2 linked regions of the Homo sapiens genome follow. The protein of the gene in region 2 purifies or fractionates together with the protein of the main gene of each other region. This does not show direct contact. Each region holds a gene or a part of one and is shown on either strand. Other genes may lie near its edges.

Region 1 (11,151 bases), on a different chromosome or scaffold from region 2:
GGGCAGTTACAAATCAGGAGGATGCTGACCTCCTGCAGGCTCTCTAGCACCCACAGTGTAGCTGGGGACACCTACAGAATGTGCTACAAGGCCACCTAGATTCAGCAGCATATGAAGCACTGCTTGTAAAGCATTCTGTTCTTTCAATACATTTTTATGTAGTTTTTTTATCTTTACAACTATCCTGAAATAAAGAGCCTAAGTTTTTTTGTTTATAACTTCATTTGGGAATAATTCCAGATTCAAAAAAGTTGGAAAGAACACCTGTATGCTTTGCCCCATTTGCTCCATCTCATATTTTTTCTGACTCATTTAAGTTGCAGTATCAGGTATTTTTGCCTACAAATATTTCAGCGTGTCTCCTAAGGAACAGTACTAACCATAGTACTGTTATCAACCTCAGGAAATTCAAAATTGGCACAATACTTTTTATTTAATCTACCATCTATATTCCTATTTATCATATGACCCAATACTATCCCCTCTATAGCACTTTTTTCCGTTCAGTTACAGGACCCAGCTTAGGATCACTTTTGCATTTAGCTATCAGATCTCTTTAATCTCCTTTCATATGGAATAGTTCTGCAAACTTTATATTTCATGACATTGCTATTTAAGAAGAATAAGGTCCTTTTTTAAAAATTGAATGCTTCTCAATCTGGATCTGTTGGTTCCCTTATGATCAGATTCCAATCAAGTATAACCGAACTGCTGTTTAAACAATGTTGTCAAACTACTGTATAAGTGATGTTTATCCTTCCAGATGTCTGAAAAGACATGATGTCCATCTTCCCTTCATTGGTGATGTTAATTTTGATCACCCAAAGTGACAGCCAATTACTCTACTGTGTAGTTACTATTTACTCCTTACAATTAACAAGCCATCTACAGCAGGCACTTATGGGAACTGGCCAAGACCAAAAAGTGAGCTATTGACGGAATACAGATTTATGTGAACTAAAACCACCAAACCACACAGCTGGCCAATCCTGCTGTTTATATTCATCACACAAGTGTTATGAAGATTTGGAGTAAAAAATAAAAAGTCTACACTTGTTATGGAGCTGCATCTGTTGAAAAGGACCATAAAATCCTAACACCATGTTTGAGCAGGACTTCCAAACACGTTTACTTAACTGGACAAGGGCCAGTTGTGAAAAAGAAGTAGGGATGGGGGACTCCTCAGGTGATACTAATGTGTAGGCGTTAAATCCACTAACAAACTAGTCCTCAAAGTTGGTTCCCTGACCAGCATCATTAGCATCATCTGAGTACTTGTTAGAAATGCAAATTATTCAGCCCAACCCCGAACCACAGAATCAGAAACTCTTAGGGGTGGGGCCTAGCAATTCATATTTTAAAAAGCCCTCTATGTGACTGACTATAATGCACATTGAAGTTTAAGAATCGCTGCTCTACTAGATACAGTGAATTGGGTAAAAGATAAGTGGGTATTTTCGCTTGTATTCAAAATGGATGTTTAAAGAAAAGACTATTACACAGCCACGACTGCCACACCAACTATTCTGCCTGCAATTGTGTAAAAGACGTGAGAATACCACATAACAAATAGTAAAGCTACATCAAGCAGTGACTGGGGAGCAGCAAGTTATTTCTAAGTTACTTGAATGTATATAAATGCAATTTTCTTTTTTCAGGCAGGGTGTTGTGTTGCTTTGTCACCCAGGATGGAGTACAGTGGTGTGATCCTGGCTCACTGCAACCTTAATTTCCTGGGCTCAAGTGATCCTCTGGCCTCAGTCTCCTGCGTAGCTGGGACCACAGGCACGGGCCACCACGCCTGGCTAATTTTTAAATCTTTTTGTAGAGATGGAGGTCTCCCTATGTTGTCCAGGTTGGTCTGGAACTCCTGGGCTCAAGTGATCGATCCTCCTGCCTCTGCACTTAAAATGAAAAAATCCTCTTGGCTGGGTGCGGTGGCTCACACCTGTAATTCCAGCACTTTGGGAGGCCAAGGCAGGCGGATCACCTGAGGTCAGGAGTTCGAGACAAGTCTGGTCAATATGATGAAACCCCTTTTCTACTAAAAATACAAAAATTAGCTAGGCGTGATGGTGTGCGCCTGTAATCCCAGCTACTTGGGAGGCTGAGGCAGGAGAATCGCTTGAACCTGGGAGGTGGAGGTTGCAGTGGGCCAAGATTGCCCCATTGCACTCCAGCCTGGGCGACTAGAGTGAATCTTCGTCCCCCCCCACACCACCTCCTCCACCACGCAAAAAGAAAAAATTATCAAGACACTGGATTCCTCCAGACTCCATGTGTGTCCTTAGGATCCAACTATGTATCCTTACCATATTGCTGCAATAAATCTTAGGAGGAGTACAACTATACAGTGAATCATATAAGTCCTAGTAAATCTTCAAGCATATGGGTGGTTATAGGACTCCCCAACACATTTGTATATCAATACTTCATTTCTTTTTATTCCTATTATTCCTCTGAATAACAACCAATTTGTTTATGTATTTGCTTGCTGAAGGACATTTAGATTGTCTTCAGGTTTGACAACTATAAACAAAACTATAAAACACGTGTCTGCAGGTTTTCATGTGAACATGAGCTTTCATTTCTCTAGAATGAGTATCTAGATATGACACAGTTGAGTACATGGTAAATGTATGATTAAGATTCTACCTGTCTTCCAGAGTGGCTGCACCATTTTGCTAAGAGATCCAGCTGTTCCCATCCTTGCCAGTACTTAGTACTATCACTATGTATTTTTAAATTTTAGCTGTTCTAATATGCAATATCATGGCTTAAATTTGCATTTCCCTAATGGCTAACAATGCTGAACTCTTCTCAGGGGGATATTTGCCATCCTTGTATCCTATCTGGTGAAATGTCTATTTAAGCCTACTTAAATCTTTTGCCCCTTTTAAAATTGAGTTTTTAAATTACTGCTGTGTTTTCTTATATATTCTGGATTCAAGTTCTTTTTCTGATACCGGATTTTCAAATATATTCTCCCAGTGTATAGCTTGTCTTTTCATGCTCCTAATAGAATTTTTTTTTACAGAACAAAGGTTTTTAATTTTGATGAAGCCCAATTTATCAAATTTTTGTTTTACGCACTGTGCCTTCGGTGTCATGTCTTAAGAACTCATTGCCAAACCCCAGGTCACAAAGATCTGTTTTCTTCTAAAAGTTTTATAGTTTCAGGTTTTATACTCAGATGTATGATCCATTTTGAGTTAATTTTATATAAAATATGAGGTAAAGGTTGAGGATTTTATTTTTCCATGTAAATGTTAAATTGTTCATGTCTTTGATGAAAAGAATATCCTTTTTCCATTTGAATTAGCTTTTGTATCTTTATTAAAATGCAGCGAGGGCCAGGCGGGGTGGCTCACGCCTGTAATCCCAGCACTTTGGGAGGCCGAGGCGGGCGGATCACCTGTCAGGAGTTCAAGACCAGCCTGGCCAACATGGCAAACCCCCGTCTCTACTAAAAATACAAAAATTAGCCGGGCGTGGTGGCACACGCCTGTAATCCCAGCTACTCGGGAGGGTGAGACAGGAGAATTGCTTGAACCCAGGAGGCGGAGGTTTCAGTGAGCTGAGATCGCACCACTGCACTCCAGCCTGGGAGACAGAGTGAGGCTCAGACTCAAAAAAAAAAAAAAAAAAAAAAAAAAAAAAAAAAAAAAGCAACGAAGACACAGGAATAAACCTTGAAAACATTATGCTAAGTGAGATAAGCCAGACGTAAAAGGTGAAATATTATTCTACTTGGGTGAGTTTGGATAGTTTGTGGCTGTGATCAGCAGAATAATGACCCCCTCCCACCCAACCAAGATACTGATGTTCTAATCCCCAGAACTTGTAAAGATATGTTACATAGGAATTAAGGTAGCAGATGGAATTAAGGTTAATAATCAGTTGAACTTAAAAAAAAAAACAATCTGGGTGGGTTCAATGTAATCACAACGGTCCTTAAATGTGGAAGGATGTGGCAAAAGAGGAAGTTAGAGTAAGATGTGAGAACAACTCGACTTGTTGTCTTTGAAAACGGAAGGGGGCCACAAGCCAAGAAATGTGGGCAGACTCTAGATGCAGGAAAAGAAAAGGAACAGATTCTCTCCTAAAGCCTCCACAATGGAATGCAAGTCCTGTCAACAATTTGATTTTATCCCAGTAAGACCCATGTCAGACTTCTGTCTCCAGGACTGTAAATAAAAACCTTTTGTTTTAAAGTCACTACATTTGTAATTTATTACAGGAGAAATAGAAAGCTAATACAGTGGTTTTTGAGGAACTGGTCCATTTCATCTAAGTTGATGAATTTCTATCTGTAGAGCTGTTTGTATTATCCTTTTCATGCCTGTACAGTCTACGGTGGTTATCTCCTCTTTCTTTTCTAATATTGGTAATTTGTCTTCCTTTTTTTCTTTTCTACTATTGGTAATTTGTTTTCCTTTTTTTTTTTCCTTTGCCAGTATGGCTAGAGGTTTACAATTTTATTGATTTTTTTTTTAAAGAGCTTTGAGTTTCACTGATTTTTTCTTTTTTTTCTGTTTTCTATTTCATGGATTTTTGTTCTCTATTATTTCTTTCTTCTGTTTAATTTGGGTTTATTTTGCTCTTCATTTCTAGTTTCATAGGTGGAAGCTTAAATTATTCACTTGAGACCTTCTCTTCTAATTAAGGCAGCTAATGCATCTAAGCATGTCTTTGGCTGTATCCCACAAATTTTGGTATGTTGAGTTTTCATTTTGGTTTAGTTCACAATATTCAAAGCTTTCCTTTGAGAGTTTTTAATCCATGGATTGTTTAGAAGTGTTCTTCTTATATATAAAGTTTACTATTTGGTTTATGACCCAGAATGTGGTTTATCTTGGTGAATTTACATGTGCACTTGAAAAGAATGTGTATTCTGCTGTCATTAGGTAAACAAATGTCAATTAGATCTACTTGGTTGACAGTGTTGTGTAGTTTTGTGTTGTTCAGTATTCTTTTTGATTTTCTACCCACTATTCTGTCAAGTACTGAGAGAGGAGTAGTAAAATATCTAACTACAATTGCAGATTTGCCTATTTCTTCTTTTATTTCTGCTGGTTTTTGCATCATACATTTTGAAGCTCTGTTGCTTGGTGCATATATAGTTAGGTCTTCTTGGTGAACTGACTGTTTTAACATTATATAATGTGCCTCTTGTTCTCTTCTCACACAACCTTTCTTAAAAACATTTTAGGCCAGGCGTAGTGGCTTATGCCCGTAATCCCAGCACTTAGGGAGGCCAAGGCAGGCAGATTACCTGAGATCAGTAGTTTGAGACCAGCCTGGCCAACATGGTGAAACCTCATCTCTACTAAAAATACAAAAGTTAGCTGGGCTTGCTGGTGGTACCTGTAATCCCAGCTACTTGGGAGGCTGAGGCAGGAGAATTGCTTGAACCTGGGAAGTAAAATGGTGCAGCCACTGTGGAAAAGTTTGGCAATTCCTCAAAAAGTTAAATATAAAATTATCATATGACCTTGCAATTCCATCCCTAGGTATATCTGGGAAAGAACCAAAAAGCTTACATTCACACAAAAACTTGTACATGAATGTTTATAGTAGCAGTATTTATAACAGCCAGGAAATAACCTAAGTGTCCATCAGCAAATATATGGATAAACAAAATGCAGTATAGACATACAATGGAATGTTATTTTCAGCCATAAAAAGGAATGCAGACTGGGTACAGTGGCTCACATCTGTAATCCCAGCACTTTGGGAGGCCGAGGCGGGAGGGTCACTTGAGGCCAGGAGTTTGAGTGTAGCCTGGGCAACATAGTGAGACCCCAAATCTACAAAAAATGATTTAAAAATTAGCTGGGTGTGGTAATACAGGTAATACATGCCTGTAGTCCCAGCTACTCAGGAAGCTGAGGCTGCAGGATCACTTGAGACTGGAAGTTCAAGGCTGCGGTGAACCATGATCTTGCCACACAGCATTCCAGCCTGGACGACAGAGCCAGGCTCTATCTCTTAAAAAAAAAAAAAAAAGGAATGCAGTACTGATGCATACTATGACATGGATGAACCATGAAAATATCATGGTAAATGAAAAGAAGCCAGACCTCAAAGGCCACATGTTGTATAATTCCACCTACACGAAACGTCCAGAATAGGTAAATCCATGGGCAGAAGTATAGTTGTTGCCAGAGATGGAAGACAGAAGAAATGGGAGAGACTACTAAAGGTATGGGGTTTCTTTTTGGAGTGATGAAAATGATAGGGGTGGCCGGGCGTGGTGGCTCATGCCTGTAATCCCAACACTTTGGGAGGCCGAGGCGTGTGGATCACCTGAGATCAGGAGTTCAAGAGCAGCCTGACCAACATGGTAAAACTCCGTCTCTACTAAAAATACAAAAATTAGCCAGGAATGGTGGTGCATGCTTGTGATCCCAGCTACTTGGGAGGCTGAGGCAAGAGAATCGCTTGAACCCGGTAAGCAGAGGTTGCAGTGAGCCAAGTTTGCACCACTGCACTCCAGCCTGGGCAACAGAGTGAGACTCCGTCTCAAAAAAAAGAGAAAAAGATAGTGGTGGTGATGGTTGCACAACATCATTATGAATACAGTAAAAAAAATTCAATTGTACATTTTAAAATGTTAAATTTTGTTATGTGAATTTTATTTCAAAGAAAAAAAATTTTTTTGGACCAGCCTGAGCAACATAGTGAAACACCATCTCTACGAAAATACAAAAAGTTAGCTGGGTGTGGTGGCAGGCGCCTGTAGTCCCAACTACTCGGGAGGCTGAGGCAGTAGAACTGCTTGAACCTGGGAGGTAGAGGTTGCAGTGAGCAGAGATCGTGCCACTGCACTCTAGCCTGGGTGACAGAGCGAGACTCTGTCTCAAAGAAAAAAACCTCTAAAAGCAAAAACAGTTAAAAGCGGTTACTTCAGGCAGGGCACGGTGGCTCATGCCTCTAATCCCAGCACTTTGGGAGGCCGAGGGTGGTGGATCACGAGGGCAGAGGAGGTCGAGACCATCCTGGCCAACACGGTGAAGCCCCGACTCTACTAAAAATGCAAAAATTAGCCAGGTGTGGTGGTGGTCGCCTGTAGTCCCAGCTACTCAAGAGGCTGAGGCATGAGAATCGCTTGAACCTGGGAGGGAGAGGTTGCAGTGAGCCGAAATCGCACCACTGCCCTCCAGCCTGGGCGACAGAGCGAGACTCCATCTCAAAAAAAAAAAAAAAAAAAAAAAAAAAAAGTGGTTACTTCAATGGAGGGAGCACGTACTTTCACTCAGTTCATACCATCATGTTGATTTTTTTTAAAACCATGTGTAAGTTATTATAACTTAAAAACTCCTACGTATGCCATCTGCCATGGCTGCCGGAGCTATTCTTCTTCTTTGAGAACGCCCCCAATGTTGAGGTGTGGATAACAGTCACGATTGTCCTACCTAACTCTGTGCCATGGCCACAGATGACTGATCCCTGAGTGAATGGATTCCTGACTCCATGTTGTGCCAATCAGATTTTCTATGCCTGAAAATAAAGATGCTAGCTAGCGTGGGTTGGAACCGAGAACAAGTAAATTTGGGAGACATGGAGTAGAGAAAGAGAAAGTGTGCAGAGATTAATGTATCCCAAGAGAAGAAATACTGAGTTGCTTGGATTCCTGCTAGCTTTCCAGTTCCTGATTCCACTCAGTCTCTTCGAATACCCAACCACTTCCCCTGTTCTTGGGTTTTATAGCCTTAATATAAATTAACTTTTTTCAGTGGCCTACCAAGGACAGAGTGGTAGAAGAGGTCCAAGCTGGGTACAGACAATAAGGGCACAGATTGTCTGTTTAGATTCATGGTGATAATAAAAAGCAGACCAACTAACTTTTAGTTCATTTTATTATTGCTTTAAATTCTCTAAAATGCTAGTGATAAAATAGTCTGCTCTGCCCCTCTTCACCCAACCCTGCTCTTTTTTGCATGAGCTAGTCTAGTTCTGTTAGATACAACCAAAGAAGCTTAAATATAACGAGAATAATGATCTTGGTCTAACCAATAGTTGAAGGGAAAACAGCTAAAGAGGCTGGGCGCAGCAGCTCACACCTGAGATCTCAGCACTCTGGGAGGCCAAGTGGGGGCAGATCACTTGAGGCCAGGAGTTCAAGACCAGCCTGGCCAACATGGCAAAACCCTGTCTCTATTAAAAATAGAAAAATTAGCCAGGCATGGTGGTGCACACTTTTAATCCCAGCTACTCGAGAGGCTGAGGCATGAGAATGGCTTGAACCCAGAAGGCGGAGGTTGCAGTGAGCCGAGATCACGCCACTGCACTCCACCCTGGGCAACAGAGCAAGACACTGACTCCAGAAAAAAAGAAAAGAAAAATTTTGAGATTTGTGATCTCACTAGCCATTTCAATTAACAACATTTCTGATTAATCAGTCTTTTCACTGCTTTTGTTCAACAAGTGTCCACTGAGCACTTTCAATGTACAAGGCAAATTCTAAGAAATTAGGATACAGTGGTGAATAATGCAGATACAGGGGCCCTGAATTCGCGGGGTCAAAATCCAGCAAAGGAACTTCCGAAACAAGGAATTTCAACAATGCACTTTACACACTATTTTTCAAAGACATATATAATAGGATCCTGCAGTAACATGGAGCAGGGGTACCCTACTTTGGTACCTAACTTAAGTTCCCAAAGGAAAAGTAAGACTTAGCCAGAAAAGTGGACATGGGATGGGAGGGGGAATCAGGCACAAGAAATCAGCAGATGCAAAAAGGCCTAGACACAGGTTCAAAATTAAAGAACTGAAAAAAGGTTCAGTGCGGCTGGGATGGAGTATGAGGAGGGGGTACGCAGTGATAAAGTCTCAGAGCAAGGCAAGGGTGGAGCCAACAAGGGCCTCATAAACCACTTTAAAAGTCCTGGATCAGATAGTAAGGGTAACAAGAAGTCACTGAAGGACTTGGTTCCAGTATGGCAGGTGGAAGAGAAGCAAGACTGGAGGCAAGAAACCAGTTAGAGGGCTGTTCCAGCGTCCAGGAAAGAGACTACGATGGCTTTAATTTTGACAGTAGCATTGGAGATGAGGGTCTGGGTCGGGCGCGGTGGCTCACGCCTATAATCCCAGCACTTTGAGAGGCCGAGGCAGGCAGATCACCTGTTCGAGACCAGCCTTGCTAACATGGTGAAATCCTGTCTCTACTAAAAATACAAAAATTAGCGGCTCGGTGTGGTGGCTCACGCCTACAATCCCAGCACTTTGGGAGGCCAAGGTGGGCGGATCACTAGGTCAGGAGTTCAAGACCAGCCTGGCCAACATGGTGAAACCCTGTCTTTACTAAAAATACAAAAATTAGCTGGGCATGGTGGCATGCACCTGTAATCCCAGCTACTCAGGGGGCTGAGGCAGGAGAATCACTTGAACCCAAGAGGCAGAGGCTGCAGTGAGCCAAGATTGTAACACTGCGCCCTAGCCTGAGTGACAGAGCAAGACTCAGTCTCAAAAAAAAAAAAATTAGCTGGGCATGGTGGCAGGCACTTGTAATCCCAGCTACTCCAGAGGCTGAGGCAGAATTGCTTGAACCTGGGAGGAGGAGGTTGCAGTGAGCCGAGATCACACTGTTGCACTCCAGCCTGGGTGACAAGAACGAAACTCCATCTCAAAAACAAAAAAAGCAAAAACAAAAACAAAACCCCTAGAACGGATAAGATACAGTGACCAAATTCAGATCCTGAAAGAGAGTCAGTGAGTAGCTGGTTATCCAAAAAAACTAGCATCACATACTAAAAAGCGGTGTCCTCTAGATCAGTGCTGTACAGAGAACTTCCTGATGTTAGGAATATGCTAGATCTGTGCTAATATAATAGCCCCTATCCACATGTAGCTACTGAGCACTTGAAATGTGCTAACACCGAGGAGGTGAATTTTTAATTTTGTGTAATTTTAATTAATTTACATTTAAATAGCCACACATGGCTACTGCCCTGGACAGCACACTCTAGATTATTGTGACACCTAACTTAAAATATATGACAGGGTTAATAAGTTTATACAATACTATATGACAAGGACAGTAAGAAAGGGAAAAATTCAGGCTGCTGGATGCAGTGGCTCACGCCTGTAATCCCAGCACTTTGAGAGGCCGAGGCGGGCGGATCACGAGGTCAAGAGATCTAGACCATCCTGGCCAACACTGTGAAACCCCGTCTCTACTAAAAATACAAAAATTAGCCGGGCGTGGTGGCGCGGGCCTATAGTCTCAGCTACTCCGGAGGCTGGGGCAGGAGAATCGCTTCAACCCAGGAGGCGGAGGTTGCAGTGAGCCGAGATTGCGCTACTGCACTCCAGCCTGGGTGACAGTGCGAGACTGTCTCAAAAAAAAAAAATGCATATTTCAAAATAAAATACACAACAAAACTTAACTTTTCAGTTTAAAAAAACTGTCTAAATATATGCAGAGAAAATAAACTACACAACCACGAACCAGTGGTTATCTTGAAGGTGAAGGATCTTCAAAGATCTTTCCTTTTCTGCTATATGTTGCTGAACTGCTTTTTTCTTTCTGTACAATGCATATGCATTACCTATCTGGGGGGAAAACAATTTCCTACTAAACCAAAAAGTGCCTATAAGTTATCACACAAACATACTTGTAATGCTGTTATAATAAAGATATGCAATACAATCACAGTGATACGAAAATATAGCAACAGCTTCTACGAACACATTATGACTTTTCTATAAGACACAACGTACACGGGAACAAGACATTCTGGGGAGAAACACATCAAGAAACTTCTCAGGTTCCCACAACAATCCACATAATTTATAAAATACTCTGAAGCTATTATTTTATATCTAAGTTACATCCTTCCTGTACTATGATGAGATGTGTCCCTTAGGATCATACATTTAGAAGACAAAATTTGACACAAATACATTCAAATCTCTATCAAATATGAAATCATCTCATTTATCCAGCAAAATCAGAGTATGGGGTATTTCTAATAAATAAACTTTCTAATATTAGTAACTGAAATTTAACCCTTTAAGCACCAAACCTTTTTACTTTGGAGGGATTTTTCCTAAAAAGTATCTATGCATCTGCACCCTCTTAAACCAATGCTACAATTGAATCTTCACTTGACATTTTGGGGCCATTGTGTTGACCATCGATTA
Region 2 (11,024 bases):
CGGGTGCAGTGGCTCATGCCTGTAATCCCAGCATTTTGGGAGGCCGAGGCAAGCAGATCACCTGAGGTCGGGAGTTTGAGACCAGCCTGACCAACATGCAGAAACCCCGTCTCTACTAAAAATACAAAATTAGCCGGACGTGGTGGTGCATGCCTGTAATCCCAACTACGTGGGAGGCTGAGGCAGGAGAATCACTTGAACCCAGGAGGTGGACGTTCCAGTGAGATGAGATTGCGCCACTGCACTGCAGGCTGGGCAACAAGAGCGAAACTCTGTCTCAAAAAAATTTAAAAAAAAAAAGCAAAATTTAATGGCTAGGTGGGGTGGCTCATGCCTGTAGTCCCAGCACTTTGGGACGCCCAGGTGAAGGATCGCTTGAGGCCAGGAGTTCAAGACCAGCCTAGGCAACACAGTGAGACCCTGCCTCTAAAAAAAAAATTTGTAAGTTAATTTGCTTGCAAATAGACTCTTGATTTTGCTTTTTTTTTTTTTTTTTTTTTTTTGAGACAGAGTCTCGCTCTGTCACCAGGTTGGAGGGCAATGGCGTAATATCAGCTTACTGCAACCTCCACCTCCCGGGTTCAAGCTATTCTCCTGTCTCAGCCTTCCAAGTAGCTGGGACTACAGGCACACGCCACCATGCACGGCTAAATTTTTTTGGATTTTTAGTAGAGATGGGCTTTCATCATGTTGGCCAGGATGGTCTCGATCTCTTGGCCTCATGATCTGCCTGCCTCGGCCTCCCAAAGTGCTGGGATTACAGGCATGAGCCACCGTGCCCGGCCAGTTTTGCTTTTTAAAAGTCCCTAAACCTCTAGCCCAATATGTCAATTTAGGCTCATGTACCATTCTTTTTCCTGTACTAATCTAAAAAAACGATACTATGAGAATCAAGACAGGATCTTTTAGAGACAGAATTTACAGAGCTCTAGAACATTTCATAGAGATCCAAAAGAAAGCGGTCTTCCTTGTAATGCAGTCAGTAATGGTGTTTTGTTTTGAGACAGAGTGTTGCTCTTGTTGCCCAGGCTGGAGTGCAATGGCATGATCTCTGCTCACTACAACCTCCACCTCCCGGATTCAAATGATTCTCCTGTCTCAGTCTCCCTAGTAGCTGGGATTACAGGCACCCGCCACCACGCCTGGCTAATTTTTGTATTTTTGGTAGAGACAGTGTTTCACCATGTTGGCCAGGCTGGACTCGAACTCCTGACCTTGTGATCCGCCCGCCTCAGCCTCCCAAAGTGCTGGGATTACAGGCATCAGCCACCACGACCGGCCATAATGCAGTAATGTTTAAAAATCTTTGTAGTGGGCCAGGCTTGGTGGCTCACGCCTGTAATCCCATCACTTTGGGAGGCTGAGGCAGGCAGATTGCCTGAGGTCAGGAGTTCGAGCCCATTCTGGCCAAGATGGTGAAATCCTGTCTCTACTAAAAATACAAAAAAAATTGGCCAGGCACGCCTGAGCGCAGTGGCTCACTCCTGTAATCCCAGCACTTTGGGAGGCCGAAGCAGGTGGATCACAAAGTCAGGAGTTCGAGACCAGCACGGCCAACATGGTAAAACCCCATCTTCACTAAAAATACAAAAAATTAGCCAGGCGTGGTGGTGCACGCCTGTAGTCCCAGCTACTCAGGAGGCTGAGACAGAAGAATCGCTTGAACCCGGGAGGCGGAGGTTGCAGTGAGCCAAGATTGCACCACTGTACTCCAGCCTGGGTGACAGAGTGAGACTCCATCTCAGAAAAAAAAAAGAAAAAAATTGGCCAGGCACGGTGGCTCACACCTGTAATCCCAGCACTTTCGGAGGCAGAGGCAGGCAGATCACAAGGTCAGGAGTTTGAGGTTAGCCTGACCAAAATGGTGAAACCCCATCTCTACTAAAAATACAAAAATAAGCCAGGCGTGGTGGTGCGCACCTGTAATCCCAGCTACTCAGGAGGCTGAGGCAGGAGAATCGCTTGAACCCAGGAGGCAGAGGTTGCAGTGAGCCAAGATCCCACCACTGCACTCCAACCTGGGCAACAGAGTGAGACTCCCATCTAAAAAAAAAAAAAAAAATACAAAAAAATTAGCCGGGCTTGGTGGCATGAGGCTGAGGCAGGGGAATTGCTTGAACTAAGGAGGTGGAGGTTGCAGTGAGCCAAGATTGCACCACTGCACTCCAGCCTGGGCGACAGGGCAAGACTGTCTCAAAAACAAAAAACCTTGTAGCTCAATGTGTCTCTTAAGTAATTTACAGATAAGTAAAATGCTATTATATCAAGATTTCCTGCATAATGAAATACAATTTAACTCCAGGTAGAGTCACTTGGGGATGGTTCCAGGACAGAGACTCCACAATGACTAAAAATGATACCCTTCTGGCTGGGCACAGTGGCTCATGCCTGTAATCCCAGCACTTTGGGAGGCTGAGGCAGGCTGATCACCTGACGTCAGGGGTTTGAGACCAGCCTGGCCAACATGGTGAAACCCAGTCTCTACTAAAAATACAAAACAATCAGCTGGGCATGGTGGCAGGCGCCTGTAATCTCAGCTACTTGGGAGGCTGAGACAGGAGAATTGCTTGAACCTGGGAGGCAGAGGTTGCAGCAAGCCAAGATCGCGCCACTGCACTCCAGCCTGGGGGACAAAGCGAGACTCTGTCTCAAAAATAAAACAAAATAAAATAAATGATATCCTTCTTCCAAAATGGTCAGAAATAGGTTTAACACATACCTCTTGTTTTACAGTACAGCTGAGCATCAGATCCACCACTGCTCTGTGCACGGCTAAATCAACTTACCTTATAAAAGCAATGACAGTCTCAGATTTTGTAGGCTTTTGAACTGGAGCTGAATTCTCTCCTTGCTATTCCTCATCACGAGGCTGGGCCTCCTCCTGAGAAGTACAACGCTGAGTCAATACAGTGGAGGCCCCATAGGGAAAGAAAGTTGCTCCAACCATCATTTACTAGCTCTAACAAGGACAAATTTTGTTAGTGGCATGAAGGGCACATACTGGACAAAATGGCCTTACAAATCAGGACTTACCATGACCCATTCTAGGCCCATTAAATTGTAAGCTGTCCTACACCAGCACCTGTAGAAGTGCTGAAGTCTTCTGACATCATCTAAGAAGATGTCAAGGTAAAGAAAGCCTTGTAAGCCTGAAAAGCATTTTCTGGAAGCCCAGAGCAAAACCTACTTCCACTTTGAGTTCTAATCCCATAATAATTATGATAATCTAACATAAAGAAGCTATAATACTCTTCAAGATTGGGAAAATAACAATAACTCAAAGTTGAATACCATTTTTACAGTTCACAACATACTTCCATAGACTTTACCCCATTTAATCCAGGCAACTATCCAGTGAGGTAGGAATTATCTTTCCAGAGAAGAAAACTGAAGCACAGGTTACACAACCTGCCCAAGATCCCATAGCTGCCTCAGGGCAGATGGAAATCAGCATTGAAGCATGCTGACTCCAAAACCCTCCATGCTTATACTAGGCTAATTTTCTTATTTCCAGGATATTATGCTGTTGCCTAAATGTACTACGGTTCATTCCTTGAGACATATTATACTGTTATCTTCAAAGGCTGAAAGGGGCAAGAAAGGTCCAACAGCTAATAAAACTTGTGTGTGGTTTTTGTTTTGTTTTGTTTTGAGAAGGAGTTTCGCTCTTGTTGCCCAGGCTGGGGTGAAATGGCGCGATCTTGGCTCACTGCAACCTCGGCCTCCTGGGTTCAAGCAATTCTCTTGCCTCAGCCTCCCAAGTAGCTAGGGTTACAGGCGCACGCCACCATGCCCGGCTAATTTTTGTATTTTTAGTAGAAACGAGGTCTAGCCATGTTGGCCAGGCTGGTCTCAAACTTCTGACCTCAGGTGATCCACCCGCCTCGGCCTCCCAAAGTGCTGGGATTACAGGCGTGAGACACCGCTCCCGGCCCTAATAAAACTTTGTATCACAGCTACATAAATTAAAACACTTGAAGAGCAACTATCTTTTAGGGATAAAGAGCCAACACCGGTAGAAAACGCAGCAAAGGATGTAGTTTCTGCACATCGCCTTAAATCTCTAAGATTTAAGTGTAAATTACAAGATGTAGTTAAAACCCACAATGACAGTGGGGTTACCACCTTGCAAGAAACTTCAAGGGAAATCACCAGACAACGTCTCATTTCACTCTGGCCCATAAGCTGCAACTAAAACCAGGTTGAAAGCCTGTAAGTGGCCTTCTGCAGTCTACCTGCTAGTGTATGGCAAACCCTCATGGAGTGGGGTTGTAAAGTGAAACAGCCTCTGCCTTGAAAAATCATAATTCAAGTGACCAATGTTGCTACACAACGACTAGATATGCCATATCCCTGGCTTAGGGTTTCTGAGGACCCCTGGGACTCCAGTTCACTGCAAACAAAGGACCCAACATGCATTTGGTCTTCCCCTGCTAAATGGGACAAGTTACCACCAGCAAACAAAGAATACCTCACCCCTTGGCCTCCCCCAGTGACAAGGTCGGTGCAAAAGGGGGCAAACTAGGGGGGCCAGAAGGCACCGGGCCTCCCTCTGGACGAACGGTCCGGGCAGCACCGGGAAGGAGGAGAAGTAGACAAAGGTCTCGGGGCACTCAGGAGGCTTCCTCCAGGCCCTGCCTGGGGAAACGGCGCATCCCGAGGCGAAGGCGTCGTTGCGCCAATGAAGCGGCCTCTCCCACGGCCTCCGCGGAGCCCCTGGCTGCGAGGCCCGCCCCGGCGGACCGGTCTGGCCCCCGCCCCCGCCCGGGCTCCATGGCAACGGCAGGCCGAGGCCTGGCTGCCCACGGATCGGCCGGGCCGGCTTCCCGGGCAGGCCTAGGATGCCCGGCCTGCTCCTCGGGCCCGCCGGCGTCTCCGCCCCACTCTCCGCCAGGCTGGCGGTCGGACCGGGCCCCCTCCTCACGACGACCACCCCCGGCCGCGGCAGGCTCCTCAAGAGGGCACGAAAGGGGAGAATAAAAAGCCCAATTCACCTGTTGTTACAGATGTGAAACAAGCCTCTGTGCACCGCGCATGAGCCGCGGCTCCCCCAACCACGGCCGGACTACAACTCCCAGCAGCGGCGGCGCGGCCCCTTCCGAGTCCCGTGGCGGAAGTCCCGCCACCGGCCCGGCGTTCCCCACCCGGCGTCACGGAGCCCGCCTGCGGCGCACGGCTCCGCTCCCCCGCGGGCCTGGAGCCCGGCCCCACCTGGGACTCGTCGTAGCCGCTCGGGGCACCCAGCGCCCGGGATGCCCCAGCACCCGGCCCAATGGGGCGCGGCGGCGGTGCAGGCGGGACTTCCGGCGGAGTCGCGAAGGGGACGGGTTGGCGCCGGCTGCTCTGGGGTCGCAGAGCGAGCGGGTTTGGGTGGCGGGGTCGGGCGTCAAGTTGCTGCCTTTCTCGGCGACTTAGCTGCCTGCAGTGTGAAAGCGGGAAGGGTCTTCTCGCCCTCTGCGAGCCACCCGCGCCTCCTGATGCGAATAAACAGCCCGGGTCATGGCTGAGCGGGGAACGGTTTCCAGCTCGGGCTCCGGGATTCCACCCGCCTTCCCCGCCACAGCTCGTAGCCACGCCTCTTCTCTTCCCCATCTCCCCTCTAATCTGTTTTTTTAGGGAGGTGAGCATTTTTGTCTTGTCTCCCCAGTTTGCAGGGAAGATGAAATCAACGTGTTGGTTCGTTGATTTCGTAAACTGTACAACGTTAGGCAAAGGACAAGGTGGCACTTGCTGGTCGCGGGGAGAGTGCCAGTCATAGTTGCTGGAAATCTGGAGGTCCGCCCGGCCACATCACCTCTTAGGAATGAGAAAGGGGATTGTCCCAATTACACGCTGTAGTCCTCTAGATAAGGTTCAAGTATAGGTTCAGTGGAATTCAGCTTCAAAAGGAAACAACGCAGTGGCGTAGCTCTGAAGCTGGGTCAGGATTTTACAGAGTATGGTTTTAAGATGTGGCCTTTAGGCCGGGCGTGGTGGCTCACGCCTGTAATCCCAGCACTTTGGGAGGCCAAGGCGGGTGGATCACCTGCGGTCAGGAGTTCAAAACCAGCCTGGCCAACATGGTGAAACCCCGTCTCAACTAAAAATGCAAAAAAATTAGCTGGGCGTGGTGGCGGGCGCATATAATCCTAGCTACTTCGGGAGGCTGAGGCAGGAGAATCACTTGAACCCGGGAGGCGGATGTTGCAGTAAGCCGAGATCGTGTCATTGAACTCCAGCCTGGGCGACAAGAATGAAACTTAAAAAAAAAAAAAAAAAAAGATGTGACCTTTGAGGCTGTATGAAGAATTAGTGCCATATCCCGTCACTTTTGTGTGCAAACAGTTCAACATGTATCTCTTTTCTTTCTCTCTACATTGGCTAGAAGACCGGGGTGTGGGGGTGGAACATCATTTATTCATTCAAATAATTAGTGCATCTGAACAGGGCATGGTGCTGTGTTGTGTGGAGAATAGAGAGATCCCTGCACGGACATCTGAGTGCTCTGTGTATCAGTTGCTAAGCTGGTGTGGAGGCTACAAAGGCCCTGCCTCAAGGGACTTAGAGCCTAGTAGAGAAGATGACAACATTGTGTGAAGGAAATGGAAAGTGGTAAATGCTGGAAAGGAGGTATTAGGTACTCCAAGAGTTCAGAGAAAGGAGTGGTTACTCCTGAATGGCAAAATGAAAGGAACGTGAACAAAGACATACGAGTGGAACAAGGGACAAATCCTAGGAATATTCAGTAGTTCAGTGTGACCACAGGGTTGGATGTGTGTGCAAGCTTTACAGGAAATAGAACTGAAAAACTGTTGGGGAGTGCCATACTAAGGAATTTTTACTTTTTTTGGTAAGACATTTAAAAAATTATTAGGAGAGTAAAATACTGCACTTTTTTGTTGTTGTTGAGACAGAGTCTCTACTCAGTCACCCAGGCTGGAGTGCAGTGGGGTGGTTGCGGCTCACTGCAACCTCTACCTCCCACGTTCAAGCGATTCTCCTGCCTCAGCCTCCCAAGTAGCTGGAATTACAGGTGTGCACTACCATGCCCAGCTCATTTTTGTATTTTTACTAGGGATGGTTTCACCATGTTGGCCAGGCTGGCCTCGAACTCTTGGCCTCAAGTGGTCCACACACTTTGGCCTCCCAAAGTGTTGGGATTACAGGCGTGAGCCACCACGCTGGGCCAATACTGTAATTTAGAAAGCTTCCTCTGGAAGTGAAAGGGTTGAATCAGCTGGGAAAATAGAAACTAGCATGCTAATTAGATCCCGAGAGAGAATGAAAGATTTAACTCAACAGTGAGAAAAGCAAGAAAGAAAAAAAAGGGGGGGTGACTGTTGAGCAGCAGACTGAGCCCAGGCCACAAGTGTGTGGAGAGATGACTTTGAGATCTGTACCATAGTGACTGAAAGGATTATGTACTATTAACATAATTAAGGGACACAAGAGTTGGAAAAGATGATGGATTCAGCTTCACTCAGATTATGTTTGCAATGTTGTTGGGAAAGTTAAGTGATAAAGTCGTGGTCCCTGCTCCAAAGAAAGTTATAGTCTGGTAGAGAGGATGAGAATAGCATGCAAATGTCTTTTTTTTGTTGTTTTTTTTTTGAGACAGGGTCTCACTCTGTCACCCAGGCTGGAGTGCAGTGGCACCATCATGGCTTATTGCAGCCTTAACCTCCCAGGCTCAATTAATCCTCCCTCCTCAGTTTCCTGAGTAGCTGGGACTACAGGCACATGCCACCACGCCCAGATAATTTTTTATTTTTTGTAGAGAAAGGGTCTCACTATGATACCCTAGGTTGACCTCAAACTCCTGGCCTCAAGCGATCCTCCCACTTCAGCCTCCCAAACTCCTGAGATTACAGGTGTGACCCACTATGCCCAGCCACAAATAAATCAAGACCTAAGGCCAGGTGTGGTGGCTCATGCCTGTAATCCCAGCACTTTGGAGGCCCAGGCAGGCGGGTCACCTGAGGTCAGGAGTTCAAGACCAGCCTGACCAACATGGAGAAACCCCATCTCTACTAAAAATACACAATTAATCGGGCATGGTGGCACATGCCTGTAATCCCAGTTACTCGGGAGGCTGAGGCAGGAGAATCACTTGAACCCAAGAGGCGGAGGTTGCAGTGAGCCAAGATCATGCCATTGCACTCAGCCTGGGCAACAAGTGCGAAACTCCATCTCAAAACAAACAAACAAACAAACAAAAAAACAAAAATTCAAGACCAAGTGGATGCACTCCAAAAGAGGCTCCTGTAGGCCAGTAGGGGGCAAAATACTTGAATAGACATCTCCCACAGGCACAGTGGCTCAAGCCTGAAATCCCAGCCCTTCAGGAGGCTGAGATGGGCAGGTCAGTTGAGCCCAGGAATTTGAGATCAGCCTGGGCAACAAGGCGAGACTCCTCTCTACAAAAATACTAAAAGTAGCTGGGTTTGGTGACATGCGCCTGTAGTCCCAGCTGCTCAGGAGGATAACATGGGAGGATCGGCCAGACGTGGTGGCTCATGCCTGTAATCCCAGCACTTTGGGAAGCCAAGGCAGGCGAATCACAAGATCAGGAGTTCGAGACCAGCCTGACCAACATGGTGAAACCCTGTCTCTACTAAAATACAAAAATTAGCCGGGCGTGGTGGCACATGCCTGTAATCCCAGCTGTTCAGGAGGCTGAGGCAGGAGAATCGCTTGAACCTGCGAGGTAGAGTTTGCAGTGAGCCGAGATCACGCCATTGCACTCTAACCTGGGCAACGGAGCGAGACTCCGTCTCAAAAAAAGAAAAAAAAAAAAGTTGGGAGGATCAATTGAATTGGGAAGATGAAGGTTGCAGTGAGCTGAGATCACACCACCGCACTCCAGAATGGGCGACAGAGTGAGACCCTGTCTCATAAAAAAAAAAAAAAGAAAAGGCCAGGCGCAGTAGCTCACACCTGTAATCTCAGCACTTTGGGAGGCCGAGGTGGGTGGATCACCTGAGGTCAGGAGTTTGAGACCAGCCTGGCCAACATGGGGAAACCCGAACTCTACTAAAAATACGAAAATAAGCCGGGCGTGGTGGCTCACGCTCGTGATCCCAGCTACTCGAGAAGCTGAGGCAGGAGAATCACTGGAACCTGGGAGGCAGAGGTTGCAGTAAGCTGATATCGCAACACTGCACTCCAGCCTGGGTGACAGAGTGAGACTACGTCTCAAAAAAAAAAAAAAAGGAAAGGAAGAAAATTTTTGCCCAGAGCAGTAGTTCATGCCTGTAATCCCAGCCTTTGGGAGGCTGAGTCCTGCAGATTGCTTGAGCCCAGGAGTTCGAGACCAGTCTGAGCAACAATGGTAAGACCCCATCTATACAAAAAATTGAAAAAATTTATCCAGGCATTGTGGTACATACCTGTAGTCTCAGCTACTCAGGAAGCTGAGGTAGGAAAATTGCCTGAGCCCAGGAGGTCGAGGCTGCAGTAAACTGTGATCCTGCCATTGCACTCCGGCCTGGGTGACAGAGCAAGACAGCCACCTTTAACTCTGTCTTTAACATGGCTGTTTTTCTGTGTGTGCAAAGAGAAGGGTCTCTGGTGACCCTTCCCCTACTTATAAAGACACAGTCCTATCTGATTGGGGGCCTGCCCTTATGTCCACATGTAACCTTAACTACCTCTCTAAAGGCCCTATTTCCAAATGCAGTCACAGTTGAGGGTTAGGGCTTCAGTATATGAATTTTGAAGGACACAATTCAGTCCGTGACATCAATTTAATGAAATAATATGCAGCAATCAAAAAGAATGAGTTAGGACAGGTGTGGTGGCTCACGCTTGGAATCCCGGCACTGGGAGGCTGAGGCGGGCGGATCACTTAAGGTCAAGAAGAGTTCGAGACCAGCCTGGCCAACGTGGTGAAACCCCATCGCTACTAAAAATATAAAAATTAGCTGGGCGTGGTGGTGGGCGCCTGTAATCCCAGCTACTTGGGAGGCTGAGGCAGGAGAATTGCTTGAACCCAGGAGGCGGAGGTTGCTACGAGCGGAGATTACGCCACTGCACTCCAACTTGGGTGACAGAGTGAGACTGTCTCAAAAAAAAAAAAAAAGAACAAGTTAGATCAAATGTACAGACATGGAAAAATTTGAAGGAAATATTGGGGTTTTTTTGTTTGGATTTTTTGAAACAGTGTCTTGCTCCATCGCCCAGACTAGAATGCAGCGGCGCGGCGCAATCATAGATCACTGCAGCCTCAAGCTCCTGGGCTAAAGTAGTCCTCCCACTTCAGTAATCAGAATAGCTAGGACTACAGGCAGGTGCCACCAAGCCTGGCTTTTTTTTTTTTTTTCTTTTTTGAGATGGAGTCTCCCTCTGTCACCCAGGCTGGAATGCAGTGGTGCGATCTCGGCTCACTGCAACTTCTGCCTCCCAGGTTCAAGTGATTCTCCTGCTTCAACCTCCTGAGTAGCTGGGATTACAGGCGCCCGCCACCATGCCTGGCTAATTTTTGTATTTTTAGTAGAGACAGGGTTTCACCATGTTGGCCAGGCTAGTCTCAAACTCCTGACCCTAACTATCTGCCCACCACGGTCTCCCAAAGTGCTGAGATTACAGGCGTGAGTCACCCACCCAGCATTTTTTTTTTCTTTTGAGAGAAGGTCTCTCTCTGTCATCCACGCTGGAATGCAGTGGTGGGATCTCAGCTCACTGCAACCTTGACCTCCTGGGCTCAAGCAGTCCTCTCACCTCAGCCTCTGGAGTAGTAGAGACTATGGGCATGCACCAGGTCTGGCTAATTTTTGTGTTTTTTGTAGAGATGGGTTTTACCATGTTGTCCTGGCTGCTCCTTTTGCTGTGATTACGGTTTTGTTTTGTTTTGTTTTGTCTCTGACCCAGGAGTCTTGTTTCTACCGGCATGGAAGAAATAGTAGCAGGCTCACTAACAGCTTGTAAGTAGGGTAAAATTCCAGACCTGCATCTACACAGTTCCTCACAGTATAATGAACACCCGTATTACCCATCACCCAGCTTCAGGGATTATCAACTGAAGGCCAACCTTGCCTTATCTATAG

The links.
Region 1: the proteins of DHX30 (region 2) and MCMBP purify together in Homo sapiens (affinity purification with mass spectrometry; 2 studies listed by BioGRID and IntAct, with this or other methods). This does not show direct contact.

What each region holds. Positions count from the first base shown.
Region 1 is NC_000010.11:119,860,099-119,871,249, forward strand, and holds part of MCMBP (mini-chromosome maintenance complex-binding protein), read right to left. Parts: intron 1-11,151. UniProt on the Homo sapiens protein: Associated component of the MCM complex that acts as a regulator of DNA replication.
Region 2 is NC_000003.12:47,797,183-47,808,206, reverse strand, and holds the start of DHX30 (ATP-dependent RNA helicase DHX30), read right to left. Parts: upstream 5,070-11,024; 5' UTR 4,995-5,069; intron 4,750-4,994; exon of another isoform or gene 4,477-4,749; intron 2,882-4,476; 5' UTR 2,787-2,881; intron 1-2,786.